4 linked regions of the Homo sapiens genome follow. The protein of the gene in region 1 interacts with the protein of each later gene in a pairwise test. Each region holds a gene or a part of one and is shown in the gene's direction. Other genes may lie near its edges. The genes, in order: JAGN1, KCNA1, TMEM207 and FDFT1.

Region 1 (8,728 bases):
AAAGAGTAAGGATGTTCTTTATGTTTCTTCATGATCTGGAGAAAACAGTCAAGATATATTGTTCAGTCAAAACAAGGCAGGGTCAGGGCACAGTGGCTCACACCTGTAATCCCAGCAGTCTGTGAGGCTGAGGCAGGAGTATTTCTTGAGGTCAGGAGTTCAAGACCAGCCTGGGCAACACAGTAAGACCTTGTCTCTACAAAAAATACAAAAATTAGCTGGGTGTGGTGGCACACATCCCAGCTACTCAGGAGGCTGAGGTGGGAGGGCCCCTTGAGCCTAGGAGTTCGAGGTTGTAGTGAGTTATGATTGTACCACTACACTTCAGTCTGAGCAAGACCCTGTCTCTAAAAATATAAATAAAATAAGGCAGGGTGTGGTGGCTCATGCCTGTAATCCTAGCACTTTGGGAGGCTAAGGCAGGAGGTTTGCTTGAGGCCAAGAATTTGAGACCAGCCTGGGCAATATAGCAAGACCCCCATCTCTACAAAAAATGTAAAATAAGCCAGGTATAGTGGTGCATGCCTGTAATCCAAGCTACTTGCATGGCTGAGGCAAGAAGTTCACTTGAGCCCAGGAGGTCAAGGCTCAGTGAGCCATGATGGTACCACTGCACTCCAGCCTGGGCAACAGAGCAAGACCCTGTCTCAAAAAAAAATTAATTAAATAAAAAATAAAAATATCATTCTGAGAGTCTGTAGTTTCCCCAGGCTGCCAAGGAAATTCATGGCACAAAAACAGCTATGAACCTCTGCTCTAAACAGCTATGCCTTTGCATTAGCATCCTTTCTGTATGACCATTTGCATTTTCTTTTTGAGACAGGGTCTTGCTCCGTTGCCCAGACTGGAGTGCAATGGTGTGATCATGGCTCACTGCAGCCTCAACCTGCTGGGCTCAAGTGATCCTCCATCTCAGCCTCCTGAGTAGCTGAGACTACAGACATATGCCATCCTGCCTGGCTAATTTTATTTTTAGAGATAGGTTCTTGCTATGTCGCCGAGGCTGATCTCGAGTTCCTGGACTCAAGCAATCCTCCTGCCTCAGCCTCCCAAAGTGCTGGGATTATAGGCATGAGCCACCATGCTCAGGGTCTCATCATGTTGCCCAGGCTGGCCTCAAACTCCTGAACTCAAGCAATCTTCCCACCTCAGCCTCATGAGTAGCTGGGACTACAGGTACATGCCGCCGCAGCCAGCTTATTGTTTGGCTTTTGAACCATGTAAATGCATTACCTAGTCAACATTTTAAATTAAAAAGATATTCTTAGGCCCAACTTTGGGGAATGATTCATTTGGGTAAGGGTGGGGCCCAGAAATCTGTGTTTTTAACAAGCATCTTGGATGAGTCTATCACAGATGGTTCTAGACCAGGCTTCACAGACAGCAAAAACGATGAGAACTAATGTGGAAGCAGGTGATCCTTGGTGCAGTAAGATGGGTCCCAAAGTGTCACCAGGATTTCCACAGGGCAAAGAAAGACATTCTAGAGAGCCTGGGGGGAGGTGACAAATATTCCTGGCCCATTTCCCCAGAGGTCCCGAACCCTCTTAGTTATCCCTCAGTGGGTCCTGAACCGTCATCCCTTAAACAGGACAGTAACAGATCTGGTAGTAAAAATCCTGCAGCCCTAGGGCCACTTTGGTCTGAGTTCTTATAGTGCAATTGCTGCGTGATCCTGGGCAAGTCACTTCCCCTTTCTGAGCCTTAATTTTCCCTTGTGTAAGATAATGATAACAAAAGTAATTATCTCCAAGGGTATTGGAAAAAGAGAATGAGTTCACGTGTGTGAATATGCCTGGCATAGAGTAGGTACTCAATAAATGTTGCTGATTTCTTTTCTCTCACTCTGTCGCCCAGGCTGGAGTGCAACAGTATGATCTCTGCTCACTGCAACCTCCGTCCCCCAGGTTCAAGCGATTCTCCTGCCTCAGCCTCCCGAGTAGCTGGGACTACAGGCACGTACCACCACGCCTGGCTAATTTTTTGTATTTTTAGTAGAGACGGGGTTTCACCGTGTTAGCCAGGCTGGTCTCGATCTCCTGACCTTGTGATCTGCCCGCCTCAGCCTCCCAAAGTGTTGGGATTACAGGCGTGAGCCACTGCACCCAGCCTTTTTTCTTATTTTTTTAAAATTTGAGACAGGGTCTCACTCTGTTGCTCAGGCTGGAGTGCAGTGGTGTGATCTCAGGTCACTGCAACCTTCGCCTCCCGGGTTCAAGGGATTCTCCTGCCTCGGCTTCCCAAGTAGCTGGGACTACAGGCATGCGCTACCACACCCTGATAATGTTTGTATTTCTTTTGGTAGAGACAGGGTTTCACCATGTTGACCAGGCTAGTCTTGAACTCCTGACCTCAAGTGATCCACTGCCTCGGCCTCCCAAAGTGCTGGGATTACAGGTGTGAGCCGTGCCCGGCCAATGTTGCTGATTTCTTGCTTGCCTTTCTCAGATCCCAGCCACACAGACTCCCTTCCTAGTGTGAGCCCCTTGCTGGTCATATGTGCTCTTGTTACCCACCTACAGATGTTAAATCCCAAGGAACTCAAATCTGTTCCTCTCTGTCCATTGCCACCTCCTAGCCCAAGCCACCCCTAGGATTGCCTGAATTACTGCAGTAGCCTTCAAGTGATTCCTCTGCTTCACCCTTGGCCCCTGCAAGCCATTCTCTACACAGCAACTAGATCTATCTTTATTTATTTATTTACAGACAGTGTCTTACTCTGTTGCCCAGAATGGAATGCAGTGGCATAATCATGGCTCACTGTAACCTTGAACTCCTGGTCTCAAATGATTCTCCCACCTCATCCTCCCGAGTAGCCTGGACTACAGGCACGCACCACCATGCCAGTTAATATTATTTTATTTTTTATTTTTGTAGAGACGGGAGTCTCACTATGTTGCCCAGGCTGATCTCCTGCCTTGGCCTCCCAAAGTGCTGAGATTACAGGCTTGAGGCACTGTGCCCCCACCTAGACCTATCTTTTAAAAATGCAAAACTGTGTCATTTTCCTGGTTAAACCTTTTAGTGGTTCCCCAAACCCCCTGGGATAAAGACTTAACTCTTTACTGAACCCTCCAAATGCTCCAGTCACTCTTAAGTTTCTCAGTTCTTTGAAGAGCCAAGTGCTCTCTGGATTTGGGGCCTTCACACATGCTGTTCCCTCTGCCTGAAAAGCTCTTCCGCTCCCCACCTCTTTAGCCAATTCCCACTCAGGCTTCAGACCTCAGCTCAATTGCTGCCACTCCAGAGAGACTTTCCTAACCCTCCAGGTCAGGGAGAGAGGCCTCATTTTTCCTCCCTCAGCCTCCTGTGTTTTCTTGAATTTCTTAGCTTCATGGGTACAAGTTCTTCCCCCGACTGGGCTGGGATCCCTCAGGGGAAATGGACCATGTTTATTTCTGCGTCCCCAGGTCATAGCAGAGCATCCTGGTGCATGGAAGATGCTCACTATACATGCTTTTTTCTTTCTTTTTTTCTTTATTCGGATAATATAACTTCTTTCTTTAAAGTTTCGCTTAGTATTTTGTTGTGGTAAAATGCACATAACATAAAACTTACTATGTTAATCATTTTTAAGTGTACAGTTTCCGTGGCATTAAGCACACACATATAGTTGTGCAATCAGTACCACCATCCATCTCCAGAACTTTTTTCATCTTCCCGAACTGAAGCTCTGTACCCATTAAACACTAGCTCCCCATTCTCTGTCCACCCCTCGAGCTTCTGGCAATGGTCATTCTACTTTGTCTCTACAGATAAAGTTTATTTGGAAATAATTTTTCTTTCATGGCCTTGACATTTTTGAAGAGTACAGTCCAGCTCTCTTCTAGACTGTCCCTCCGTCTGGATTTATGTCATTTCTTCATGATTAGATTCAGTTAGGTATTTTTGGCAGAAACATCATAGAAGTGATGCTGTGTCCTCAGTCTATTAAAAGAGGCACAAGATATCAGTTTATCTCATTATTGATCAAATTAACTGACTATATGTTTAAGGGAGACAAGCCAGATTTCCTCACTGAGAGATTCCCTGTTTCTCTTTGCAATAATTAAATGTGAGAAACTTATTTTGAGACAAAGTCTCACTCTGCACTCTGTCCCCCAGGCTGGAGTGCATTGGCACAATCTCGACTTACTGCAACCTCTGCCTCCCTGGTTCAAGCGATTCTCCTGCCTCAGCCACCCAAGTAGCTGGGGTCACAGGAACCCACCACACCTGGCTAATTTTTGTATTTTTAGTAGAGACGGGATTTCACCATGTTGCCCAGGCTGGTCTTGAACTCCTGACATCAAGTGATCCACCCACCTCGGCCTCCCAAAGTGCTGGGATTAAAGGTGTGAGGCTGTGTGAATGATGTGTGCTCCAGGGAAAGTCATAGAATATATCAGTTTCCCCCTCTGTAAAGTGTGGACAGAAGTATCCTAACTGATATTACAGCTTAAGAAAGTAAAAGTGTTCAAGCGGCCTCTGGGCGCCAGCAAAAGAGGCTGGGGATTAATTTCCTGCGCGCTCCACAAGAGGCGGGGCTGGGCGGGGCGGGGGCGAGAGGGAACGAGGGCGCCTGCGCGGAGAGGAGTGACCATAGAGTCGGTCCTCCAGAGACAGAGGGGCCGGAAGTTCTCTTCACGGAGCCGCGCGGCTGCGGGGGCGCAAATAGGGTCAGTGGGCCGCTTGGCGGTGTCGTTGCGGTACCAGGTCCGCGTGAGGGGTTCGGGGGTTCTGGGCAGGCACAATGGCGTCTCGAGCAGGCCCGCGAGCGGCCGGCACCGACGGCAGCGACTTTCAGCACCGGGAGCGCGTCGCCATGCACTACCAGATGAGGTATGAAGTGAGGCGAGGAGCACGGAGGCTTTCTCCCCCGCTGGAGCCTGCGGGGCTTGGGGAGCGACGCCGGCCCGGCCTCAGGGTCTTGCTCCCCAGCCAGCCCCCGCTCACCTGCCAAGTCCCCTCCTCCCGTGACGGCTTCGGGCCTGTCCCCCATCCTGGAAAGCCCCGTGGCCCCCGCGAGCTCCACCCCTTGTTCCGCCCGGTGCCTTGAGGGGATCCAGCCCCGCGTGGGCTCCCGCCCTGCGTGGGCTCCCGAGTCACGTCGATGCTGGCCCCGCTGTATCACCTTCGAAACCGAATTTCTAATTTGAGCCTCAGCTTCCTCATCTGTAGAGGGAGAGAATAATCTGCCTTTTAGGTTTTGGTGAAAGATTAATCAGTAATTCGTGTAAAGAAAGTAGCATAAGGCCTACCACGTAATATATGGTAGGTGTTATATTTTGGGCCGTTTGGGGGGATATAGACAGTAAAAGGCAGCCTTTCCTAAGGACGCCTTGCCTAAAATGAATTTTATAAACACTCCCACGTAAGGGGTATTTCTACATTCAATTACTAGTTCGACAAATACTGAGCTTCCAAACATCATACACTGCTAGACACTAGGTTATAATAGTGAGCAAAAGCAGACGTGGTCTTTGTATACATGTTATACCTTCAATAAACAATTTTATTAAAGAAAAAAAAAACTGTTCCCTGCCTTCATGGAGCTTGAAGTCTAGAGATGACTGTTTTTTTTTTCCAACCTTTCCACATTTTCTACAATAAATATTTTTAAATAAAAATTTTAAAATTTTTACTTCCTTAAATCCATTGATCTCTCCCAGAATGTTCTTCACATCTCTCTCTCCAGAGTTTTAAAGAATGACAAGCTCTTTGAACTCTCATTTGTTTCACATCTCTAGGCCCCGGCTGAAAGGGCCCTCACAACTTAAGCAGGTGTTTTCATGCCAGCCCAGAGTAGAAACATTGCCTTTAGGGATATGAGGAGGATACGTTTGGGACGTGAGAGAATTAGAAGAATAAGATAAGTATGTACTTCTTTTGGATGAAAAAATCTAGCTGGAGAAGTATGGGCGGCCTGAGTACGTTTCCTCTCTGCCAATACCTTCTCCCGCCAGACTTTAATCCTATGGTGCAGTCAGCGTCCTCTTGCTAAACACAGCTCTGAGCTACCCTTCTGCCTTTATTATTATTATTAATTTATTTATTTATTTTTGAGACGGAGTCACGGTCTGTCGCCCAGGCTGGAGTGCAGTGGCGCGATCTCAGCTCACTTGTAAGCTCCGCCTCCCGGGTTCACGCCATTCTCAGCCTCAGCCTCCCGAGTAGCTGGGACTACAGGCGCCCGCCACCACGTGCTGCTAATTTTTTTGTATTTTTAGTAGAGACAGGGTTTCACCGTGTCAGCCAGGATGGTCTCGATCTCCTGACCTCGTGATCTGCCCGCCTCGGCCTCCCAAAGTGCTGGGATTACAGGCGTGAGCCACCGCGCCCAGCCCTGCCTTTTTATTAGTAGTATTGTTGTTGTTTTTTTTTTTTATGGAGATGGGGTCTCATTTTGTTGCCAGGCTGGTCTCGAACTCCTGGGCTCAAGCAGTCCTCCTGCTTCAGCCTACCAAAGTGCTTGGATTAGAGTTGTGAGCCCAGCCTCTTCTACTTTTAACTCTCATAGTCTTTGTGATTCATATCCCACTACCCCTCTCCCCCTAACAATATGTTCCTGCCACACATAACCACTTGCTTTCCTGGAACACAAATACTTGGGCCTTTTTGTCTGCATGCTCCTGCATGGGATGCCCATCTTCACTCATTCCTGAGCCTAGTTCAGATATCACCTGCCTCTAGATAGCCATCTCTGACATTCCATGCCAGGCAGAGTTGATTCCTCCTTCCTGTGATCCCATATATCTGGGAACATATATTTACTAGAACTTTTTCACTTCATTTTCTAATTACTTTTTCCTCCTCTGTTCTTTGTGTCCGGCTTCTAGGCTGTTTTATTCAAATTTGTATCCCAGTGTCCAGTACAGTTGTCTGGCATATAGTTGGTGGTAAGAAAAATTTGAAAGATACTTCTCCCTCTGCTCTGCCCCACAGTGTGACTCTCAAGTATGAAATCAAGAAGCTGATCTACGTACATCTGGTCATATGGCTGCTGCTGGTTGCTAAGATGAGCGTGGGACACCTGAGGCTCTTGTCACATGATCAGGTGGCCATGCCCTATCAGTGGGAATACCCGTATTTGCTGAGCATTTTGCCCTCTCTCTTGGGCCTTCTCTCCTTTCCCCGCAACAACATTAGCTACCTGGTGCTCTCCATGATCAGCATGGGACTCTTTTCCATCGCTCCACTCATTTATGGCAGCATGGAGATGTTCCCTGCTGCACAGCAGCTCTACCGCCATGGCAAGGCCTACCGTTTCCTCTTTGGTTTTTCTGCCGTTTCCATCATGTACCTGGTGTTGGTGTTGGCAGTGCAAGTGCATGCCTGGCAGTTGTACTACAGCAAGAAGCTCCTAGACTCTTGGTTCACCAGCACACAGGAGAAGAAGCATAAATGAAGCCTCTTTGGGGTGAAGCCTGGACATCCCATCGAATGAAAGGACACTAGTACAGCGGTTCCAAAATCCCTTCTGGTGATTTTAGCAGCTGTGATGTTGGTACCTGGTGCAGACCAGGCCAAAGTTCTGGAAAGCTCCTTTTGCCATCTGCTGAGGTGGCAAAACTATAATTTATTCCTGGTTGGCTAGAACTGGGTGACCAACAGCTATGAAACAAATTTCAGCTGTTTGAAGTTGAACTTTGAGGTTTTTCTTTAAGAATGAGCTTCGTCCTTGCCTCTACTCGGTCATTCTCCCCATTTCCATCCATTACCCCTTAGCCATTGAGACTAAAGGAAATAGGGAATAAATCAAATTACTTCATCTCTAGGTCACGGGTCAGGAAACATTTGGGCAGCTGCTCCCTTGGCAGGCTGTGGTCTCCTCTGCAAAGCATTTTAATTAAAAACCTCAATAAAGATGGCCCTGCCCACACTGTGCCTTGTGTTTGGGGCTTGATAGAGTGTGAAAGGTGTGTTGCTTGAAAGGTGTGGCCTTAGACACTAGGAGATGATGGGTAGAAGCTCCTTGAGAAACCTAGCAGTGGCCATAGAGAAGTAGACTGGGTATGGGGAACCTAAGTCATAGTTGTAACCTACAGCTGATTGGTAAGAACTATGGGCCAGACATTTAATCTCTCCATCTATGAAATAGTCCATTCTCATTTATCTACCTTAGGTTATGGGCTCTTCTTTTAGTTGGATATTCACATTTATCTTTCAGTGTTAACTGGGTATCAGTTATGAGTCTACTACTGTATAATGGCATCCAAAAGAATTTTAAAGTACCTCGGTTTATAGGGATTTACAATTCAGTAGAAACTTGTTATTCATGTGAAACAGTGAACATAATATCTAATGATGTGGAGCAAGTACATTAAAAACAGGAAGGAAGAGATCTGTGATTAAACTAAAGGCCCTTTCACACCTAAAATTCTGGCAGTATTTATTGCATGAAAGATAATGTGTCTCTTTGCACTTGATTTTATTGTCTCTGGATGATGCCCAGATCTGTAACTGCAGAGCTCTGCCCTCTCCAGAGATGTAGTCATTATTTTGTTCTAGAAACATTGTGTATGTAGTTAGTCATTACTGAGTCACTTTTTTTTTTTTTTTTTTTTTAATTGAGACGGAGTCTTGCTCTGTCGCCCAGGCTGGAGTGCAGTGGCACGATCTCGGCTCACTGCAAGCTCTGCCTCCCGGGTTCACACCATTCTGCCTCAACCTCCCAAGTAGCTGGGACTACAGGTGCCCACCACCACGCCCGGCTAATTTTTGTATTTTTAGTAGAGACGGGGTTTCA
Region 2 (8,506 bases), on another chromosome or scaffold:
ATAATGCCACCAAGAGGACTCCATATTACTCATTGTCATCTTAAATCCTTGGTGACTTCTGAGTTTTCCCTTTCAAGTCCTACTTGTTCTATATTACTTTTTACAATTATACTTCAAATCTTGTAAGACCCCCATTCCTCTGCTTGTGACACTGCCCTCAACAGGGTCTATAGTGAGTCCGTGGGCATATTCCTGCCTAGTATGACCACCTCCCTTCATGCCGTCTCTTGCCTTACCACTGTATAACACTTAAGAAACTGATCTTAAGAAGGACACTACATGTAGAACGAGTGCACATTTTTTCATAAATGATCATCAGGACGAATTCTATCCTGACTCACTTCCAAGTTAATCTCAGACACCCAGTGCCCAATTACTTAATTGCATGGTTCCTCACCACAAGTGAGCCCTCGGTGCTGCCAGGCAACCCTGCTACATTCCCCAACCCTTTCACTTTCCAATTCTCCTAAGTGGTTATTTTGCAGTTTTCCCCTCCCATTTCTTTTCTTTTATTTGCTTTTTTCTTTTTTCGGAGATGGGGTCTTGCTCTGTTGCCCAGGCTGGAGTGCAGTGGCTCAATCTTGGCTCACTGCAACCTCCGCCTCCTGGGTTAAAGTGATTCTCTTGCCTCAGACTCCCAAGTAGCTGGGACTACAGGTGCACGCTACCATACCCAGCTAATTTTTGTATTTTTAGTTGAGACAGATTTCACCATGTTGGCCAGGCTGGTCTTGAACTCCTGACCTCCAGTGATCCACCCACTTTGGCCTTCCAAAGTGCTGGGATTGCAGGCATGAGCCACCACGTCTGGCCACCCCTCCTATTTCTAAGGCCTCCTTCCCCATCCTCACTTTCAGCTGATGACCTTGCTTTCCTTTTTACTGAGAAAATTTCTTCTGATTGCATAGGTGAATGTCCACTAACTCCCACAACTTCTACTCAATTACTTGCAGCTGACTTCTGCTCTCTGTCTCTCTCCCATTTCTATAGAGAAATTGCCCTTTTCCAAGGCCAATCCCTTATTTTGGGTCTTAGATTCCATTCTCCTTTTGCTTTCTCAAGAACATTGCTCTGATTTTTCTCTTTCTACCACATCACTATTTCTTTTCTTTCTACTGAGTCATTGCCCTTAGCATACAAACATATTGTAATAGATTTCATCATTTTTTTAAAAAAAGTCTCATCACTCATCATCTTCCTTCAGTCTACTACCCCATTCTTCTGTTCCCCTGGGCACCAAAACTCCAAGAGCTGTTTTTACCTACTGTCCTCAGTTCTCTCTCAATCTCTTTTCAACTCAATTTTTCTAAATCTGATAGTCATTTCTATGTTCCTCATTCTACTCATCTTACTGGCAGTAAGCAACAATGTTGATATCTCCCTTCTTCTTAACATACTGTTCTCATTTGGTTTTGCAGACCCCACATTCTCCTGTTTTGTTCACCTCATCATCACTCCTTCTCAGTTTCCTTTGGTGGCTCTTCCTTCTTTTATCGACCTCTCAGCATTAGAGCGTCCCAAGGCATGATCTCTGCATATTTCCTCTTCCTTTTCTACCCTCAGGTTCAAGTGCTGTAATCTCTGTAATCTGCTACTCTGGCTTTAATTACCCAAGTGGTTCTCAGCTGAGGGTGATTTTTGCATTGTCTGGAAACACTTTTGGTTGTCACAACTAGGGGAAGGTGCTACTGGCATCTAATGGCTGGAAGCAAGGGAAGCTGCTGAATATACTAAAATCCACAGGACCACACCCCACAACAATAAAAAGTATTCAGCCCAAATGTGCTAAAGTTGAGAAACCTTGATCTACCCAGACCTCTTCTCTGAACTCTAACCTTGTATGTTTAACTTTCTACTCAACATCCTCATTTGCATATTTCTAGGTATCTCAAAGGTAACATGTCCCAAACCAAAGTTGTGATTCCCCATGCCTCAGCTCAGCTTCCCTAGAAAGCATAACCCAAGACAGGATTATGTGCGAATGCTTTAATGGGAGGTGTGAAGCCAGAACCATGAGAGGAAGAGAAAAGGAGAGTGAGACAGGGAAGGACAGGGTGCAGATCCAAGGAGAAGAGTTACCAAACTAGTTACTGCTTCATGAGTCACAAAGAGACACAGCCTTTTCATTAGACCATGTGGTTGCTTGGCCATGAAAATAATAAAGGTAGAGGGGATTTACCGACGAGCTCCATCCTAGCTTGCATCTCCCACTGGGCAAGCTCCTCTTGGTCCATTGAGCTAATGCACCCCTAGGTTTGTGTTACTCACCTAGGCCTTTTTGCAGTCTTGAGGAATCCAGATTCCACTCCTTGCAGTGCTGTCAACTTCAAGAGGCAGAACTCTGCCACCCATCGAGTTGACTTTTCCAGCAGCACCTGCAGTGGGGCAAGTGGCCATTGGACAAGACAATGGTGAGCTGGAGAGAATCTGAGGAGATGGCCTACGCTGCCCAATACAGTGACAACTAAGACACACAAGGTCTCAGACTTCAAGGAGCTCCTAAGCTGCCCAACACAGAAGATCTCAGAAGACACAGAAGATCTCAGACTTCAAGGAACTCACATCTAGGTAGGAGCGAAACTGTTTGGGACACTCCTGCAGTAAATGATATTACCATTTATCTGGTTATTAAGGCCACAAGCCTAGGAGACAGTCCTAAAACTTTTCTTTCCTCACATCCCAAATTCTGCCATCTCTATTTCAAAATGTAATTCTCTTCCAAAAACTCCTTACAAGCTCACCACAGTCTCCCTCATCTAAGCCAACATTGCTTATGCTACTTAGTAACCTCCAACCTTGTGTCTTGTTTCTAGTAGCCAGAATAATCTCCAAGAAATGCAAATCATATTGCTATATTGATGCATATCCTCCAGTAGGTTCCCATTGTACTCAGAATGAAATGAACTATTCTTACCATAGCCTTAGAGGCCCTGCATGATCTGGGCTCTGCCTGCCTTTCTGACCTACCTTTGATGACATTCTTTCTCAGTGACTTCTTTCTGGCCATACTGGCTCTCTTGTTTCCTGAATATGCTGAGTCTGTCCTTGCCTTGGGACCTTTGCTCTTACACCCATCCTTTCATCTTCCTGTTCCTTGCTCTCTCTTCTTGATGTTTTTTGTTCAAATGTTACTTCTGCAGAGAGGCCCTTCTTATCTGCAAACCTATATTTGTCACTTGCTGTGCCTGATTCTTAATTTTCTTTATCTAACACTATAATGTATGACGTATATGTTTATTGTCTGTATCTCCCACCAGAATATGAGCTCCATGAGACCTGGGACCTTATATGTCTCCATTCCAGTGCAAGGGCACCATCTGGCCCATAGCTGGGGCTGGGCAAATATTTGTTGAATTAATAAATATCTTCAGACCCTTACCAAGGGAGGACTTCCATCAAGAATGCTGAGTTCCAGTTAGCCAGGAGTGATGGCTTGTGCCTGTTGTCCTCCCAGTTACTCCAGAGGCTAAGGTGGGAGGATTGTTTGAGCCCAATACTTCAAGGTTGCGGTGAGCTATGATTACACTACTACACTCTGTCTCAAAGAAGAACAAGAGGAAGAAGAGGAAGAGGAAGAAGGAGGAGGAGGAGGAGAATGCTGAGTTCCCAGCTCACAATTTTCTTCCAGTCCCTTGGAGGTCCAGTCCTGCTGTAAACACATCTATCAGAGATGTGGAAGATTTCCTAATATGCCCCCCAATAAAACCCGGAATTTAGGAACCTGGGATCTCATCCAATCTGTGAATCCCTTGTAGTAAGGCAATCTCCTAATGCTGAGTCAGGGCACATGCATTCACAAGAAGCTAGGAAGATGACAGTCTTAGGGACATTTAAAGGAAGGCAATGGGTTATAGGAAGAGGGAGGTACAAGATAAGGACAGATAAAGTGGAGAATAGGGAAGCTCAGTAGTGCTAGGATATGGTCAGAAAACCCTTGTCTCGTAGGGTTATCCCCAGTAGGGTTCTAGCAGTGGCAGCAGCAACAAAACCAAAAGACTTGGCAGTACTTCAGCTGGGAGCTTCATATTTATATCTTTGTTTTTATTTTTAAATTTTTTTAAAAAATATATTTATTTGCATTAGAACAGCAGTGCAGAAAGGTAGGGATCCCTGGAGCTATTGAGATTGAGGGATATGCGTGTGGAAGGTGGGAAAGGGGAAGAGTTTAATATGGGAAGGAGGAGTATAAGAGAACTCATTGTTCATGAAAGAAAAGCTGGGGTACGGATCTGAAGGAGGGGAGGGAACATACACTTTTGTTTTTCTGAAAGGAATGCTGGCGTCTGAATCTGGAGGAAGGATTTAACTAGTTCCAGACAGGGACTGTTGCACTGCCTGGGCAATCCCGCAGGGGCCCCTGCTTTCCACTAGCCACAATAGAGCGGGAAGGATGCAATCATTGGCTTTGATTAAGGAGGTGGGTGGTGTAGGCGGGAGGCAACGGTGGTGAGAAGGGTGGTCCCAAGGCCGCGGGAGGAGCCAATCAGCGGCGACTCTGGGCTCTTGCAGCCTCCTTAGAGACTCCGCAGCCCTGGAGGTACCAAGCTGCCTGCTGCCTTTTCTCGCGCTGCAGGCGCGGAGATGCAGCGCCTCTGGGGGCGCAGCTCCAGCCGCACTCGCAGGGCAAGGCACACGCCCCCGGCTCCTGCTGCCATGCGCCTCTGCGGGGGACCCTTTCCAAATAAATTGCAAGCTTTGAAAGTGGCCCTGTGGAGGCACTAGGCTGGGGAAAAAGGCTGCGGGAGGAGGGACATAGGGTGGGAGGTGAGTAGGCGACTTGCTTCTCAGATTATTCCCAATTAGCACCAAGTTGGCAGACAACCCCACAAACCCACGAAGCCTTCGGTCCCCCACAAGTCACATTCCCTGTATTTCAGAATAATCGGATCGTAAGAAAACTTCAAGTCCCATCGTAGGTTAAAGAGGGACAGGCTCTTAGTACCGCCGCCGCCCAGTAAAACTACATGGAACAAACCCAGGGATCCTCATCTGCACAGCTCTGCCCAAAGTCTGCAGCTCTGCGAGTCCAGCCGGCGGGGGAAGCTGGGTGGGCCCCGCAGAGAGCAAGGGCCTTCTTGGGGGAGGAGCGGGATGGGGCGCAGAGCAGTGCGATCGAAGAGGGTTACTGTGGGACTGCACAAAAGCAAACCCGTCGGAGGAGTTTTGCCAGAAACACCACCGCCTGCATTGCGTCGGACCTGACCATTTCCAATGTGAAATTCCCGGGGAAGGTCGCGAGCCGCTAGGGGCCGTTCGTGGGCGGGGCGGCGGGCCACAGGGGAAGTAGAGTTAGCGGTCGGCTTTTCTGGTAGGAGAGGAAAAAGCTGTGCTGGCAAGGGTGGGAACTGAATGACAACCCCGCTCTCTTCCAAACCACCCCCTCATATTTTCCATCCACCTCCTCGCTCCTGCCCTCCCCCGCCCTCCCCAACCCACGCCCGGGTGGGCCAATCGCTGCTCGGTATTCCAGGCGCTTTCTCAGGTTTCTGCTGATCTTGCAGCGCCCAGAAATGGACCGAGCGGACCCGCCGCCGCACGCACCCTGCTCCACTCCAAGCTCCTAAGGGCTCCTGGCGCGCCGCGTAGCCTTGGCGAGGTCCGCGCTGGGGTGCGGAGAGCGAAGGGAACTGGAGAGCCATGTAGATCCAGGCTCTCGCCCGCCCGCCTCCTTCGGGATCGAATCAAGGGCTCCCATAGTGTTAGGAGGGGGCGAGAGTGCTGTTTATCGTCATTTGCCTCGGAGCTTCGAGAGAGGGTGGTATTTTGCTTTTCCGCCCCGCATCCTCCGGAACTCCCTGCACCGGAGAGAGGACGGCGTCTCCAGGTTGCTGGCAACCGGTGAGAATGGGGGTAGGGAAGGAACATTTTCGCCGTAGCTGCTCCGTAAAGCGATTGTCCAACTGAGAGGGGCGTCGGACGAGTGGACCAGGGCGGCGAGTTTGCCCGGCGCGTCTCGGATGCTGCTGCGGCGGCCGCCGCGGCTCCCGCCAGGGCACTGCAAAGACGACCTGCCGCATTCCCACTCGGGCTCTCCGCTGACTCAGCACCGCCCCTGCGCCAAGCCAGCCGGCCAGGTAGGGGGTTCCCCAGCTCGGGGATGCAGAAGCGGGGGTTGGGGGGACCGGGTGGGGGAGGCCGGGGGTGCGGGGATGCTGTCCGGGACCCTGAGCTTCCCCCGGCGTCTCTCGGCGCTTTTCCGATCTCTAGTTTAACGAAGTTGTAAACAGATCGGCTGTTGGGCATTGGGGAAAGTGGGATGGAAGAGCCCCAAACTTGGATTTCCGGGTGTCTGCGTGTCGTCTGTCCGTGTGTGTGTGATAGCCCTAGCAAACGTCCAGTGCTTTCTCAAGCTAGAGGTCTGTGTTCTTCGGTGTCTGTAGGTCCGTCCCATCTGAATGCTTCTGATTTTCTACCCCCGTATCACTTTCTATTTCTCTGCAGCGTGCATCGATCGCCCTGGTGGGAGCTTAGAAGGCGGCAGGCGAAGAGGGGTAGGAGGGGGGAGAGCCGAGGAGAAGCAGAGAGGGTGGCAGGCGTGGGGATCTGCCGAGCCGGCACTGCACCGGGTCCTAGGAAGGCTCTCGGAGGGGAGGGGAGGCCAGGGCGACCCCCGAAGCAATGGCCCAGTCCGCTAGAACGGCACTGCGTTAAGGCACCTGGGATCAGGAAGAAATATCTAAACAACAACAACAGAAAACCAACAAACCCCCAAACCCAAACCCAACCCTCTGCAAAAAGCTGCACCCGGCCCGCAGGCGAGGGGGATTCCAAACTGAGTGAAAGGCAGGGTGGAGGGGAAGGCAGCGAGAGGCAAAGTCGCAGATCTCCCGACCTGCTCGTGTTGAAGCACCTCCCCCTGGGCGTGAGGGAGACGCGCGCTCCGGTGGGGGGGCCGCTTGGGTCCCCCCCACCCCTGGTCCCTGGCTGCTTCCCACCCCGGGCTCTCTCCTGGCCTCCCACCCCCGCGCCCGGCTTCCACCATGACGGTGATGTCTGGGGAGAACGTGGACGAGGCTTCGGCCGCCCCGGGCCACCCCCAGGATGGCAGCTACCCCCGGCAGGCCGACCACGACGACCACGAGTGCTGCGAGCGCGTGGTGATCAACATCTCCGGGCTGCGCTTCGAGACGCAGCTCAAGACCCTGGCGCAGTTCCCCAACACGCTGCTGGGCAACCCTAAGAAACGCATGCGCTACTTCGACCCCCTGAGGAACGAGTACTTCTTCGACCGCAACCGGCCCAGCTTCGACGCCATCCTCTACTACTACCAGTCCGGCGGCCGCCTGCGGAGGCCGGTCAACGTGCCCCTGGACATGTTCTCCGAGGAGATCAAGTTTTACGAGTTGGGCGAGGAGGCCATGGAGAAGTTCCGGGAGGACGAGGGCTTCATCAAGGAGGAGGAGCGCCCTCTGCCCGAGAAGGAGTACCAGCGCCAGGTGTGGCTGCTCTTCGAGTACCCCGAGAGCTCGGGGCCCGCCAGGGTCATCGCCATCGTCTCCGTCATGGTCATCCTCATCTCCATCGTCATCTTTTGCCTGGAGACGCTCCCCGAGCTGAAGGATGACAAGGACTTCACGGGCACCGTCCACCGCATCGACAACACCACGGTCATCTACAATTCCAACATCTTCACAGACCCCTTCTTCATCGTGGAAACGCTGTGTATCATCTGGTTCTCCTTCGAGCTGGTGGTGCGCTTCTTCGCCTGCCCCAGCAAGACGGACTTCTTCAAAAACATCATGAACTTCATAGACATTGTGGCCATCATTCCTTATTTCATCACGCTGGGCACCGAGATAGCTGAGCAGGAAGGAAACCAGAAGGGCGAGCAGGCCACCTCCCTGGCCATCCTCAGGGTCATCCGCTTGGTAAGGGTTTTTAGAATCTTCAAGCTCTCCCGCCACTCTAAGGGCCTCCAGATCCTGGGCCAGACCCTCAAAGCTAGTATGAGAGAGCTAGGGCTGCTCATCTTTTTCCTCTTCATCGGGGTCATCCTGTTTTCTAGTGCAGTGTACTTTGCCGAGGCGGAAGAAGCTGAGTCGCACTTCTCCAGTATCCCCGATGCTTTCTGGTGGGCGGTGGTGTCCATGACCACTGTAGGATACGGTGACATGTACCCTGTGACAATTGGAGGCAAGATCGTGGGCTCCTTGTGTGCCATCGCTGGTGTGCTAACAATTGCCCTGCCCGTACCTGTCATTGTGTCCAATTTCAACTATTTCTACCACCGAGAAACTGAGGGGGAAGAGCAGGCTCAGTTGCTCCACGTCAGTTCCCCTAACTTAGCCTCTGACAGTGACCTCAGTCGCCGCAGTTCCTCTACTATGAGCAAGTCTGAGTACATGGAGATCGAAGAGGATATGAATAATAGCATAGCCCATTATAGACAGGTCAATATCAGAACTGCCAATTGCACCACTGCTAACCAAAACTGCGTTAATAAGAGCAAGCTACTGACCGATGTTTAAAAAACAAAGGCAAGCAAACAAAAAAGCCCCACTTAGCA
Region 3 (8,109 bases), about 180 Mb from region 1:
TGTTAGCAGCTGTTTTCAGTCTTCATTGCCTGTTACACTCAAAGCCATGCTCTCTGTATAGCAGGAGGCTATGACTGTATTTCACAGCAGAAATTGGGACCATTCACCTGCTTCTGGTGGATCTTCTTATTGTTAACAATCTGCTTATTAAATTTGTGCTGCTCTTTCAGCTTTTGCATGGCTCTCGATTGCTATTTCTTTACGTTAATTTTGGAACTGCTTTTTCACTCTGTCTTATGCTGTTTGTGATGTAACAGAGTATTTGATTGTTTGCATGCTTATCTGACTCAGGATTTCCTGGCTGCCCTTATCTTATCTCCTCATCTTCTGCCTTTGACCCAGACTAACAAAATAAAGAAGTTCAGAATTGGAAAGGATCTTAAATGTTGAATCTAACTCTAATCAACGTGACAGAAACATACGGTATTAAGAAAGTTTTTATGCTGACTTTAGCGGTAGCTGAGGCTACCGCTCTCCCTTTTAGGTGAAGGGATTGAAACCTAAGAGAAATAGTAAATGAGTAGTAGGGCTTCAACTGGTACTTAGGCATCACATTCTCTGGCTACATCATTTTGCAACTAAGTGTCTGTAATGGTTATCATTATTCAATACAATTGCTTTTGAGTAAAAACAAAAAAAAATTAACCCTCAAATGAAATGTAAATTGGCAGAAAATAAACACAAAAAAGAGAGTGGCTGGGAATGTAGGGTGGTCATATAAGGTAAGTAAATGTATTGAAGACGTGCACAATATCTCAAATCTTTTGTTATCGCAAGACAGTGTCAGCGGAATGAATCTGTAAGGAAAGTCATGCTGTTTTCTGAGGGAGTAAAAAGTCCCCTCCAAGAAAAATCCTCTTTCTCTAACTATATTTATACAAGAGATTTCAGTTTCAAATCACTTCTTTGATCTGAGACATTATCTCCTGATAAAATACACTACCCAGCCAAGAGACCATATTCATCCATTTACCAGCACTGCTATAAGAGAGTAACACACAAACATGGCAGATTACAGTGAAAAGGACCGTAAAGATGGCCTACTCCAAATGTCTTTTAAAAAATGAGAAACACAAAAGGACAGTAGCTTGTCCAAAGTTCACATGCAAAATGGACACAGAAAAGGGAGACTTGGATTGGAATGCAAGGGAGCATCAAAGTAAAAACATGAAACATGGATCGCCTAGGTAGAGGCCATGGTGGAGGAGGTGCTGATTAGCTAGAAATAAAAACATATGTATTAATCAACTTCTATGTTCCAAGAATTGTGCGAAACAATTTGCATATATTTTCCATTAAAACAAACAAACAAACAAAACTGGTCGACCGGGCGCAGTGGCTAACCCTGTAATCCTAGCACTTTGGGATGCCAAAGTGGGTGGATCACCTGAGGTGGGGAGTTCGAGACCAGCCTGGCCAACATGGTGAAACCCCATCTCTACTGAAAATACAAAAATTAGCCGGGCATGGTGGCACGCACCTGTAATCCCAGCTACTCAAGAGGCTGAGGCAGGAGTATCGCTTGAACCTGGGAGGTGGCGGTTGCAGTGAGCCGAGATCGCACCACTGCACTCCAGCCTGGGTAACAGAGCGAGACTCCGTCTCAAATAACAACAACACTGGTCTATTTTATTATTCCCTATTTAAATTTGTTTTCAACACCAGGGTACGTTTTTCTGATCCAATCCAATTATTTTACTTTTCTAACTGTATTTTTAACATGAACAAAGCTTTGCTGTGCTGTCTTTGTATAAAATTTAAATGCTATAAGTAATTTATTTTATGAAATAAAGCATGACAGAGCCCCTCTTATCATACTTCTGACTTAGTCCTCTTCTGATAAATAGCCAAGGACACTGATGTGCATGAATGAACAAAAATAGATTGATTTATGAAATATAAATATGACTATACATATAAAAGATTCTGTAAATTAATTGCATTGATAGATTTTCTAATGATATACCACATCTTGCTTGGCTTGATAAAGTGAAATATCTTACTCAAGAGTAGGAAAGCAAGTTAAAAGGCAGAGCTTGGACTTGGACCTGGGACAGACTCCTGAGCCCAGAATTTCAACCACAAAGTTATATTGTATATCCAACATTTAATCAATTATACATCTGGTGAAATACCTGAGATATGCATAGTCCATTCATTCTTTGAGATACTATACAATTTACTACCAGTTTCTGGGTAATATGATTTGTGACTCATCCATCCCTCAAATTACTGTAGCTGAATTGCACTTTGGCCTATGTTGAGGAATGACTTTTTAAAAATAAAAAAAAATTCATGCAATTTGTTACTGAATTTATTCTGAGAATACTATGGAAAACATTGTTCTTATGTTAACAGTGTTCTCTTTATGAGGCCTCATAGCTTGAATTTTTCTCTGGTTTCGATGCCAGGAATAGTTGTACATCTGGTGAGTAATGCTGTTCATTTTGTTAATTTTAGAGGACACTATATAACCAATATTCTCTCTCATTATGCTAGCTGCTAGGAAGCTTAAGTCAGATCTACAGTTCAATTCAAATTTTATATACGGTATTTACTATATTCGGTTTACAAACTGATCTCACTATTGGCCTATTCTCTGTCTGATCCTCACCAGGCTCTCATTTCTATTTTTTTTTTTTTTAATTTTCAGTATTTCCTTAAAGCATTTGGAACACGGGATACTGGATTCATTCAGGCAATACTCCACATGGTACTATGAGGTTAGAGCTGGCTATTACTGTCCCAGTCGCACCACGACATGGTGATAAGAGACATGAACTCTGCAGACAGAGCATTTGGGTTGAAAACCTACTTCTACCACTTCCAGCTATGCTAACTTGCGCAAGTTACTTAATGGCTCTGTGACTGAGTTCTCTCAGTTGTAAAAGGAGAATTATAATAGTATGACCCTACTGTATAGTGGTGTAAGTTTGAGAGTCCGTTATTTCACATGAAGTTACGCATCTGGTTTTAGAAGAGTGTCTGCCCTAGAAAATGCTGAGTGATGTAACAGAGAAACCAATGAAGCAACTCTGCATATTTCTTCCTGAATTTATCAAATTCATAAATGTGTAATCTAAGGTCCACAGATTCTCAGCACAGAGAAGAAGAATAAAGATCAACTCATCTAACCATTCGTATTGCACAGAAATCATCTCCATGACATCAAAGTAACAAAAGGAAATCGTTCTGATAAGGACAGAAATTATCTCCCTCAACAATTAATTCTAGATAATTCTTATTCCAAATGTCTTTCTTACGCATTATAGTCAGCTCTCACTTCCCCCCGATGATTTTCTTTTTACCATAATCATACCAATTTGACCAATCCCTGAGGAATAATTTCATTTTCAAAAATATAACCTTTCCTATACTGAATATCTTGGAAGTAATATTTGAGTAATTAGAATACTCTTACTTTTTTAGGAACTCAAAAAGTTTCTGTTTACAACTTGAATTTAAGAGAGAAATGGAAATAATGATTCGAGGAGGGGAGCATATGGAGCCAAAAGACACATGTTCCAGTGTAGTTCTCTGACTACGTAGTGAATTCCCCTCTTCCTCTCTCCACCTTAAGTCTCAGTGGTACACTGTGCAAAATCCTAAAGGTCAATAAATGATCTCAAAGATGCCTGCGATTTGGAGCTTACATGATTACTGCACTTCTCCAGCTAACTGCTTCCTAGCCATGTTATTTCTTATCAGAAACTCCACCAGAGGGTGCACCAGCTCAGAAAAAAAAGTGAAATAAAGTTGGTTTGGAAAATTGTTAGCCCAGGAAGAAAAAAAAATAGAGGGCCTTAAAAATTAGATTTAAGAAACACAATGAGGTGGTTAATATTTAGAATTGAGTTTAACGATAAGTAAAGGGGCTATTTTCAAACAGAAAAAAAGTAAAGGAAGAGGAGGAAGATGAAATAATCCATACTCCTGACCATGAGCTTAGATGTCACAATTCAAAAAAGAAAAACAAAACAAAACAAAACAAAAAAAAAAAAAAGCTTTTTTAATTGTGTCAGGACACCAAGAGAATTTCCCCACATCTGTCTCTTAAAAAATGTATATTTTTAAGGTTTTAATTTTTTAATACAATATTTTAAAGTTCTTTTTACTACAAAGTGATTCGTGTACATTACAATAATTCAAACAATATGAAAGGGATAGAGTTTTTCATAATGCCATCTTCAAGAGAAGTGGGCACTTCAGTAGTCTGGTGTAAATTTATGTCTGGTAGTAATTTTGGCGAAATCATTGTACTTGTAGAAAATAATATATACAAAGTAAGATTGAAGTCTCTATACTATTTTATGTAGCAAGACTTATTTATAAACATGTTTACATTATTTTTGATGATTGAATAATATTCCCTTGTAAGTATGTCCCATTAATTATTTTTCACATCTTTTATTCATGGCCATTTGTCTTAGGATGCTTTTCAAAGTCACACTTCAGTTGCCATTTTTTTTTTTCCAGCCATACCTGTGAATTTTGCTAAACACTCTGGGCGCTCAAAAGAACAAAGAGCAAATAAACAGAAAACAGACAAAAGAAAAAGACGCAGAGATTTATATGTGGAGGGGAATGAAATCATCTGTAGGCTGGGTGATTGGTTTTTGTCTTAAATGTTTGTGATAGAATTTTTAAATTGACACTTCACATATGTTAAAAGTCATTTCTGACTGGTATGATGATGGGATGACACACTGCCTCCTCAGGGAAGCTAGATGCAATAAATTAACTGACATTTATGAATGTCTTCAAACTGCAATGAACTGAGTTATTTTAACAATGGCTGAAGAAGATATGATTAAGTATAGTGTCTTCTCAGAAGTGTATCTGACTGTGAATAACAGATTTCCACTGTTCAAGCTCAGTTCAGAATACCTTAAAAGTAGCTTGTATATTGAGGTATGAAAAAAGTCCATCAGCCCACATACATTTAGTGTGCCATGTTAGGCATAGTGAGGGACTCTACACCTACGGAGTTATACCTCCCAAAAATCACTCTGTGAACTTTGTCTGTCTGCGATATTTTAAAACTTCTCTCAAGAAAGATTGAATTGTGGCTAGACACACACAGGAGGGTCAACTTCCTGACTGAAGGAGTCAACTTCTAACTCCTTGGTAAATGGTAGGTATGGCCACGTTCATTCATTTTCCTCCTAGCCTAATTTCTTTCCTCACCAATTGTATAACAAGAGGGCAAACAGTTGTCCAATGCCTCCTATTCTCTACCAAGATATTCTTCCCTGGAGAATTTGAGTTTTACATGACTGTAGGTCTCTAGATGAACAGAATATAGCTATAATGGTTATCTACCTAATACCAAACACCTACGATTTGTTGTCCCTGAAGAGTTAAGTCACTGCCTTCTCAATGCTTAACAGTATTTGTAACTCTAGAATCAAACCCATTATAATGCATTTATCTGTTTATGTATCAGTCTGATAATTTCACATTTACTTGTATTCTCAGTGCCTTGAATTGAGTGGGCATAAACATTTGCATAATTGTGCTGGGTGCGGGACGATATGGGCTGGTATGGGAATATGTAGGTGACTGTTCTGGAGAAACAAGTGTGATCAGTACCAATTTTATTGGGTGAAAGAAATAGGCTTTGGCTATCCTGAGTTCCAGGACTAACGCTCTCCCTTTATCACCAGGTGTGTAAATTATAATGACCAACACCCTAATGGCTGGTATATCTGGTAAGGATATCTTCCATTTGTTTTATATGACAGTTGGTGGTATATACAGTCTTTGTCCTAAATAATTTGAGATGGTACATGAAATCATACAGCTTAAGGAAAGATTAGGGGTCATGCAAATGAATATAGAAACATCACTTTCAGATCGTTGGCCAATGTTTACTTAAACACTTCTTGTGACAAAAGGACTCACTATTTTAAAAAATAAGCTTATTCTAGAGTTGAAAATCTTTAACAGCAAAATAATTGTTATTTGTCTTGAAATCTCCCTAAATGACCCTCCACTGATATTAGTTCTGGCCTTAAAAGGCATTCCAAATGACCACTGTCTCTTCTATGAGATAATCCTTCAGATTTTTTTTTTTCTCTGAGACACAGTTTTGCTCTGTCGCCCAGGCTGCAGTGCAGTGGCGCCATCTCGGCTCAATGCAAGCTCCGCCTCCCGGGTTCCCGCCATTCTCCAGCCTCAGCCTCCGGAGTAGCTGGGATTACAGGCGCCCGCCATCACGCCCAGCTAATTTTTTGTATTTTTTAGTAGAGACGGGGTTTCACCGTGTTAGCCAGGATGTTCTCGATCTCCTGACCTCGTGATCCGCCCGCCTCGGCCTCCCAAAGTGCTGGGATTACAGGCTTGAGCCACCGCGCCCGGCCCCTCTGCCTACTTTTGAATTCCTATCCCCAATATCTAAAGTGTGTGTAGTTGCTTAAATACTAACTGAATGGATGGATGGATGAATGGCTGGATGGATGTCTGAAAGGAAGAATGGATGAATGAATTAAGACTCTGTCTTTTAGAATAACCCTCCAATTTCTAAGGAGAAAATGATTATTACCACCTGGAAAGATCAACCCTTTCTGAGGCCAAAGAATATTTTCAGTTCAGTGGAAATGTATGGGTGGTGGTAGGAAATTGCTTAAGGAATTCAGTGTCCCACATTGCTTGCGGCCAGTCTAGCTGAGTCTTCACCCCACTTCTAGGTAGTGATGGAAGCTCTTAACTTCCCTGCATACTCTACCTCATTCTTTTCTCGGTTACTTTTGGAGTCAGGATCCTCCTGCTGCTGGTTTTGGTGGCAGCTCTTCTCTGTGGAGCTGTGGTCCTCTGCCTCCAGTGCTGGCTGAGGAGACCCCGAATTGATTCTCACAGGCGCACCATGGCAGTTTTTGCTGTTGGAGACTTGGACTCTATTTATGGTGAGTTGTCTGCACGCTTCTGGACTCTTTTTTGATACTTTGTGGTTTTGCGGTTAATTGAAAAACTGTTCTCCCAAAAGCAGATCTGGGAACTTAGAAAAAGATGTGGCTTATTGGAGACACCAAGGCCTGCACTGAGGAGAGTTTAAGGGAGAAAATTTCATAAGAAAGACAATCCCAGAAGAAAGAAAATGTGTCTTGGGAACTGACCCACAGTTAAGTATAAGGAAAGCAACTAAATATTTTGTTGTTCAATAAGCAGAAGAGAAGAAGTATGCAGGGCTGGGCAGTCCAGGTGAATGGTAGGGTTTAGGGTACTGCAAAGCATCTCTGAGCTTTTATTATCAACCTGTCTTAACTTGTATTTATAAATTCATTTACTGAGCTTTCTATGCTTTACTGAACTCATCTGAAGTAACATTGAACGACACTTTCCAGATGTCTGCGGTCAATGCAGAATCTGAAATTCCATGGAATAGTCAGGGGAATGTCAATTTTCATGCCCTTTCATCTCAGCGTCCTGATCCTGTCAGCTCCCAACTTCCCCTCCCAAAACCATGCCCTTCCCTTCATTTTCCAGTTTGCATAAGGAAGTAAAGAACAGAGGAAATTCAGGGCTTAGAGTTATTTGCAGCTGCCAGCCTTAGCTGTGAGTAGAAAAAAACAACTTACTGATTTCTGGGAAGCCATAATTGATAGCTATTTCTTCATCTTAAGTATTGGCTCAAGCAGGGACTGTTGTGAGACTTTATTCTAAGTTACTGCATTACACACTACAGTTACCTCGGGAGCGCTTAACAGAGATAATAGCTAAAGCCGTCTTTCAGAAACTGGGCCACCATGAAATTTACAATAGATGGAGCAGGGTGTGCCCTGGGGAAAACTAACAGCAAGATGAAAAGTGGGGTAAAAATAAACAAAAATTTGTTAACATCAAACTTAGTTTTCCAAGATAATGATTATATTGACCTCCAGCTTTTTTTTTTTCCTTCAAAGGTTATTACTTAACAGAGGCAATGCATTATCAGTTTGGGAAATGGTTCTTTTTTTTTTTTTTTTTTTTTTTTGAGACGGAGTCTCGCTCTGTCGCCCAGGCGGGAGTGCCGTGGCGCGATCTCCGCTCACTGCAAGCTCCCCCTCCCGGGTTCACGCCATTCTCCTGCCTCAGCCTCCCGAGTAGCTGGGACTACAGGCGCCCGCCACC
Region 4 (7,167 bases), on another chromosome or scaffold:
ATGAAAATATTCAGCCAGTGACCCAAAAAATTGCTACCAATGAGACTCTCCATTTTGCCATGTAGCCAGAACTTACTTTGATCTATGTGCCTGGGGTAGTGACCAAGTAGGTGGGTAGGAGTAATCTCAGGGAAACTTGAGGCCCCAGCCTCATGGCTAGGGTCATAATTTGAACCCAGGTCTGTCTGACATCAGAATCCATGATGTTAACCCCAATTCTAAGGGGTTCAACTACCCTTTCTAAATGGAATCCTGCTATATTAAGCACTATTTATTCATTTTATATAAACTAGAAACATTTTATGTAGTAAGTAGTTGAGAGTGTTTTGGTTTTGCAGTTTGATCACTAGTTTTAGAAACCAGTTTTTAAACACTTTGTGGCCAATTCCATTACTATATTAAAATTCAGATTTATTTGGTTTTTCCTTAACTATTGGGATTAAATCCTGGTTGTAATTCATAGTTTGAGGGCGAGGGTGGGCAGTCTACAGTTGGCTGAGCCCTGTTTTTGTGAATAAATGTTATCAGAACACAGCCACACCCATTTGCTTCTTTGTCTTCTGTGGCTGCTTTTGCAATGTGACGGCCGAGTTGAGGAGCTGCAACAGGCGATGACTTGTAAAGCTGAAAATATTTTTTGGCCCTTGAATAAGAGGTTTGCTGACTTCTGACTTAGGGTATCAGTTGTTCTGTTATCCCAGTAAAACTCAAGGCATTAGGGGAGAAATGTTAATATTAATACTTAAGTTGATTTGATTTAGGGAAATCTTTGAAGATTTCTAAGTCTTAAGCAGTAGAACCTGTTAATGGTTTTAGTTTCAGCAGTAAGGACATTTTACAAGTAAAGTTTTAAATGAAAACATTTTGTATGAAGCCACAAGTCGTCTGGCCTCTTGCTGGTGTCCAGATATTAACACTGATCCTATTTCTCCTTGCTGACCAAGTCTGTCCTTTGTAGTAAGAAAGGAAGAAACGTTGACTCTGTCCGATCTCTGGACTTAGTGTTGTAGCGAGCATGCACCTGGAAGGGACTTGCCAGAGGACCTCCTCATGCTTCTCCAGTGCTTAGTGGGGGCTTGGAGTGCAGCCCCAGGTCTTCACGAGCAGTTGGCCACACTGCAGGGCCCTCACCCCACTCTGGAGCAGCCTCTGCTTCAAACCAGCCTGGATGCTTGTCAGCTGGGGAGAAGATCAACCTGCTATTTTGGGATAGAAATAAATGCTCAGCCAAACGGCCAGAAACCCCCATTCCCCTCTCTGCCAAAGTGAATTCCTTGGCAGGGAGAATCTTGTTCGTGTCTCTGCACACTTCCTGTGCCCTCCTGTGGTTAAGTCAGAGAATCATCCGGCTCTTTGAGCCCCAGGTGCCTAGCTGCTCAAGGATGGTCCCCAGCCAGCAGCTGCCAGGAATCACCTGGGAGCCCATTAAGACATCCAGCCCCCACCCAAACGTATCGAATCAGAATCTGCCTTTTTTTCCCAAATGATGTTTTTGCTTTAATGGAAGTTTAGATGTTCATAGACAAGAGTTTTAAATGATGATCAAGCTGATTCCATATTCGCAGTTGTAAGTAGAACTGCTGAGACGTGGAAGTACCACATGGACTCACAGAGGAGCTGCTGTATGTAGCACAGCATTGCACAAGAGCTTATTTCAGTCTAGTAAACATTTATAGGAGCCTGTGTCATTTAATCATCAAGCCTCGCACTGTGGCTCACACCTGTAATCCCAAAACTTTGGGAGGCTGAGGCAGGCAGATCACTTGAGGTAAGGAGTTCGAGACCAGCCTGGCCAATATGGCAAAACCCTGTCTCTACTAAAAATACAACATTTAGCCAGGTGTGGTGGTGCACACTTGTCATCCCAGCTATTCCGGAGCCTGAGACATGAGCATCGCTTGAACTCGGGAGGTGGAGGTTGTAGTGAGCTGAGATGGCACCACTGCACTCCAGCCTGGGCAACAGGGTGAAGGCCCTTTCTCAAACCCCTCAAGTATTTGGCTTCAACTTTATGCCGGGCATGTAGATGAAAAGTCGGCTATGACCTGTCCTTGACAAGCAGATGTAACTCCTTGATTGAGGCTAGTAGGTTTTTAAGACCTGAATAATTGAGTTTGCAGAAACCTACTGTGTGCCTTCAGGTAAATGGAGAGTGGGGTTTGGTCTAGCAACGAAGCATCTAGAAGGTCCCTTTGGCCTTACCGGCTCTGTTTTAGGTAAGTCCACGTCTGAGTACCAGTGACTGCAGCTCTTCCAGTTGTGCTGTCATGCTTATATGTTAGAAATGATCATCAAAGGACTCAAAAGTTTTGCCACTAATTGTATTACCGGGGACTGTCACAACCAAGATTTCTCTTAATTTATTCACCTTACTTATCTCCTGGAAGGGCATATTGAAGTGCTCTTGGAGTTCTCTAAAAGGGTTTTTGTTGGTTGTGTATATTCACTTGGGTGCCAGCGATTGATTCCAAATAAGTAAATCTTTTTTCCCAAAAGGATGTAAGATGGCTTATGGTTATAAGTACAACAGGCTAACAAAGTACAAGTAGATGAGAAAGTAAAATGAAGAAATAAAGTCATAGGAGCCACAGAATTAACCCAGGAATGAATAAGTGTGTAGTTTGGTGCTGATGTTATCATCCTTTATTTGTACATTGCTTGTACAGTTGCTCTGAGAAGGTAAGTCTTAAATTTTCAAAAGTGAAATGTCACCGAGCATGGTGGCTGATGCCTCTAATCTCAGCACTTTGGGAGGCTGAGGCAGGCGGATCACTTGAGGTCAGGAGTGCGAAACCAGCCTGACTTATGTGATGAAACCCTGTCTCTACTAAAAAAAAAAAAAAAAAAAAAAAATACAAAAGTTAGTTGGGCATGGTGGCAGGTGCCTGTAATCCCACCTACTTGGGAGGCTGAGGCAGGAGAATCGCATGAACCTGGGAAGTGGAGGCTGCAGTGAGCCAAGATTGCACCACTGCACTCTAGCCTGGGTGACAGAGCGAGACACCATCTTAAAAAAAAAAAAAAATCTACAATATACCAAAACCATTACTTACCTGAGAAACTATTCTCAGGGTCATTGTAGTGAATGCCTATTTTATGGCTTTTGATGGCATCAGGGCACTCAGGTCATTTACAAGAGTAGTGTGTGAGACCCTGTGTGTCACTGCCACTCATCTTGGCCTTCGGCCACTGCTGTAGCAACCAGTTTCCAAGTAGGGCTGGACCTTGCCTTCTGCTCCAGAGACCTCTCGCTTCCTGCCCTTGGGCTTCTGACGAGCTGCAGGAACTGCCTGGCACGTGGGTCCCCACAACCCAGAGGAGGTGAGGGCCACCTCTCTGCTCCTCAGGGCCACCTTTCATAAGGCTCCTTGAAGGTCCCTCAAGATCAAGCCAACTCAACACATCCTTGATAGGCCTTCCTGCCTTCTGTTTCACTTCTCCACTCGTTTCCAAATAAATGGCTGCATGCAAGCTTTTGCCTCAGGTTCTGCTTTTAGGAGGAAGGCTAAGACAAGCAGTAAAGCAACATGGGCAGGCAGAAGGATGACTTCTAATAGAATTATCTCATCACTATATATTTTACTTTATGGATGCTTGTATTGAAAAGTCTTGGCTGGGTGGAGTGGCTCACGCCTGTAATCCCAGCCCTTTGGGAGGCCGAGGTGGGTGGATCACTTGAGGTCTGGAGTTTGAGACCAGCCTGACCAACACTGGTAAAACCTTGTCTCTATTAAAAATGCAAAAATTAGCCAGGGATGCACGCTTGCTGTGTGCCAGCACAGGGCTAGGCTGGAGATAAAAAGGTGAGTAAGTAGGTGCGGTGTAGTCAGGGTGAAAACTACAGATGGTCCATTTCCACGTAAGTGGAAAGGTAAAGGTATGTACAATAGGGTGGCTCCTGGCTGAACCTGGAGCTGCAGACAGGTTTTCTAGAAGGCATAATCCTGAAGTTGAGACTTGGGGGCCTAGGTAGGAGCCAGTTGAAGGGACGTGGGAGGCGCATTCCAGAGAGAAGGAGTGGTATGAGACTGGAACAGAGGTGTGCAGCAGCATCGCATGGGCGAAACAACAGTAGACAGTTGTTCTTTTGTTTTTGTTTGTTTTTTGAGACAGGGTCTTGTTCTGTCATCCAGGCTGGAGTGCAGTGGCATGATCTCGGATCACTGCAACCTCCACCTCCCAGGCTCAAGTGATCTTCCCACCCCAGTCCCCAAGTAGCTGGGGGACCACAGGTGCATGCCACGATGCCCGGCTAATTTTTGTACATTTTGTAGAAACAGGGTTTTACTGTGTTGTCCAGGCTGGTCTTAAACGCCTGAGCTTAAGCAGTCTACGTGCCTCAGCCTCCTGAAGTGCTGGGATTCCAAACATGAGCCACTGTGCCTGGCCCGGCAACTGTTACTAGACTGTAGAGAGGGAGGTGGGCAAGGGCTGGTGACACTAGACAGGTGCAGTAGGTCTGGACCATGGGTGGCCTTGCGCTACACATTACAGAGCTCAGGCTTTTTTTCTCCAGGTGAGAGGGCTGGTGCCACTGAGGCATCAAGCAGAGGTTTGAGATCTCCTTGGTGACAGTGTAGAGCAGACAGGTAGATTTGGGAATTTAAGCTTAGACTCACGTTGGAGACTGAGATAGCTCATCTGAGAGGCACTCAGGGCCTAATCTCAGGCAGTAATTTTAGGGATGTAGGGGAAGAGATGGATTCTGCACATACTTGGGAGGCTTGTGGAGGAGTGGGGAGGGAGGCACAGGGAGGACTCCAGGGTGGTTCATACGGCTCCCTGCTTCTGTTCCTGTCCCCCTTTGTCAAGCTGTGGTCTGTACTGCGTGTTCCATCTTGTTTCTAAGCTGCTTTTGCCCAGTCTTTCCAGCATTTCCCTTTCGTCATGTTAGTCTGTGCCTGTCTACGTGAACTATGGTGACGTTTATTGGGCCTGGCACTGTGAGGTGCTGGGGATGTGAAGATCATTGTGGCTCAGCCGCTGCTCTCGAGGGCCTCTGGGTGCAGTATGCACACCTGTGCCTCCTGTTTGCTCAGGAAGACAGGCTTTGAGATGAGCTGGGGCTGACATCCCCACCTTATCATTGGGATGGCTTTGGGTAAGTTATGTTCATGTTCTCTGAGCCTCCCTTTCCTCATTGGTAAAATGGGTATAAAATACCTGCCAGTGGAGGGTTGTTGTAAGTAGCCATGGAAAATGTAAAGCACATAGCACTTATCATTTTTTCCTGTGTCTTTAACAGATTTATCATAGAATCCCCGACTCAGACCCATCTTCTAGCAAAACAAGGCAGATCATCTCCACCATCCGGACGCAGAATCTTCCCAACTGTCAGCTGATTTCCCGAAGCCACTACTCCCCCATCTACCTGTCGTTTGTCATGCTTTTGGCTGCCCTGAGCTGGCAGTACCTGACCACTCTCTCCCAGGTAACAGAAGACTATGTTCAGACTGGAGAACACTGATCCCAAATTTGTCCATAGCTGAAGTCCACCATAAAGTGGATTTACTTTTTTTCTTTAAGGATGGATGTTGTGTTCTCTTTATTTTTTTCCTACTACTTTAATCCCTAAAAGAACGCTGTGTGGCTGGGACCTTTAGGAAAGTGAAATGCAGGTGAGAAGAACCTAAACATGAAAGGAAAGGGTGCCTCATCCCAGCAACCTGTCCTTGTGGGTGATGATCACTGTGCTGCTTGTGGCTCATGGCAGAGCATTCAGTGCCACGGTTTAGGTGAAGTCGCTGCATATGTGACTGTCATGAGATCCTACTTAGTATGATCCTGGCTAGAATGATAATTAAAAGTATTTAATTTGAAGCACCATTTGAATGTTCGTAATAGTAGAAAATGATGTGAATTTTCTTTCTGTTCGGCTCCTATTTTTCTCATCATTTTGTTTTCTTTAATTGGGTTGAATGGAGTAGATAGAAATATTTATGGTTTAGGTAACAGTTAGATGTTTCCTAAGAATGCAAACTGCCTTTTCCACACAAAGGCTGGGAATAAAATTCTGGGTATTCTCGTATTCTCATTTAAAGGAGTTTAGCTTTCAGAGAGAAACAGCAGGATTGCTTTTGACCTTTTAGAAGATTGGTCTCCAGTAAAGGTGGACATTTTTGAGATTTTTATAATAAAGAATTTAATTGCTCTGCATTTGTCAAGTACAGTTCGCTTGAAAGCCTGCCTGACTGTGGAAAAGATGGAGCTCAAGAATGGAGTTGATGGCCCAGCGTGGTGGCTCATGCCTGTAATCCCAGCACTTTGGGAGGCTGAGGCGGTCGGATCACGACATTAGGGGATCGAGACCATCCTGGCTAACACGGTGAAACCCCGTCTCTACTAAAAAAAAAAAAAATTAGCCAGGCGTGGTGGCGGGTGCCTGTAGTTCCAGCTACTCGGGAGGCTGAGGCAGGAGAATGGCTTAAACCCGGGAGGCGGAGCTTGCAGTGAGCTCAGATCGCGCCACTGCACTCCAGTCTGGGCAACAGAGCGAGACTCCATCTCAAAAAAAGGAAAAAATTGTAAAAAAAAAAAAAAAAAAAAAAAAAAAAAAAAAAAAAAAATTTCCCCCAGCAGTTTTTGTTTTCTAAAGTTATCAGTTTATATATTCAGGTCTTAAGAAAGGCAAAAGCTGTCTTCAGGTGATTGGCTTGGGGGCAGAACAGTACTTCTGCTCGGGGTTTCACCTTCCTCTCTACTCCAGTGCAGCAGAGCTTGTGATGTGCTCTCACTGAGGTGCTCAGTGCAGCAAGGAGGCCTGTGGACCCTCGAGTTGAGAATTGGTGTACTAGGGCATTCGGTACTTTCTAGAAGCCATTAATGCTACAGGTACTCATAAAGTCTACTCTTCTGCAGCCCATCGTGGATGGTGGCTTAATCATTGAATTTGAGTTGTTTCGAGCTGCAGCGTTGGATTTGCATTGTTGTAAGCACACTTTCTTGCTGTGACCACTGACACCAAAATTAGTTTGGGCCCAGGGAGACTTCAGTTAATTGGTTCATTTGAGGCTTAGCCCTGGACTCATTTGTCACCAGCCAAGATAACTTGCCACATGGAATACAGCCAGACCAGGGGTCCCCGACCCCCAGGCCTAGGACCGGCACTAAACCTTCTGTTACGTGGCCTGTTAGGAACCGGGCATCACAGCAGGAGGTGAGCGGCGG

Evidence for each region.
Region 2: the proteins of JAGN1 (region 1) and KCNA1 interact in binary tests that used the Homo sapiens proteins (3 or more experiments, as listed by UniProt).
Region 3: the proteins of JAGN1 (region 1) and TMEM207 interact in binary tests that used the Homo sapiens proteins (3 or more experiments, as listed by UniProt).
Region 4: the proteins of JAGN1 (region 1) and FDFT1 interact in binary tests that used the Homo sapiens proteins (3 or more experiments, as listed by UniProt).

What each region holds. Positions count from the first base shown.
Region 1 is NC_000003.12:9,885,991-9,894,718, forward strand, and holds JAGN1 (protein jagunal homolog 1), read left to right. Parts: upstream 1-4,619; 5' UTR 4,620-4,732; coding exon 4,733-4,821; intron 4,822-6,818; exon of another isoform or gene 6,819-6,924; coding exon 6,925-7,387; 3' UTR 7,388-8,359; downstream 8,360-8,728. UniProt on the Homo sapiens protein: Endoplasmic reticulum transmembrane protein involved in vesicle-mediated transport, which is required for neutrophil function.
Region 2 is NC_000012.12:4,904,399-4,912,904, forward strand, and holds the start of KCNA1 (potassium voltage-gated channel subfamily A member 1), read left to right. Parts: upstream 1-5,506; 5' UTR 5,507-6,074; intron 6,075-6,441; 5' UTR 6,442-6,980; coding exon 6,981-8,468; 3' UTR 8,469-8,506. UniProt on the Homo sapiens protein: Voltage-gated potassium channel that mediates transmembrane potassium transport in excitable membranes, primarily in the brain and the central nervous system, but also in the kidney.
Region 3 is NC_000003.12:190,439,040-190,447,148, reverse strand, and holds part of TMEM207 (transmembrane protein 207 precursor), read left to right. Parts: intron 1-5,666; coding exon 5,667-5,711; intron 5,712-6,759; coding exon 6,760-6,905; intron 6,906-8,109.
Region 4 is NC_000008.11:11,833,143-11,840,309, forward strand, and holds the end of FDFT1 (squalene synthase), read left to right. Parts: intron 1-5,245; coding exon 5,246-5,467; 3' UTR 5,468-6,156; downstream 6,157-7,167. UniProt on the Homo sapiens protein: Catalyzes the condensation of 2 farnesyl pyrophosphate (FPP) moieties to form squalene. Proceeds in two distinct steps.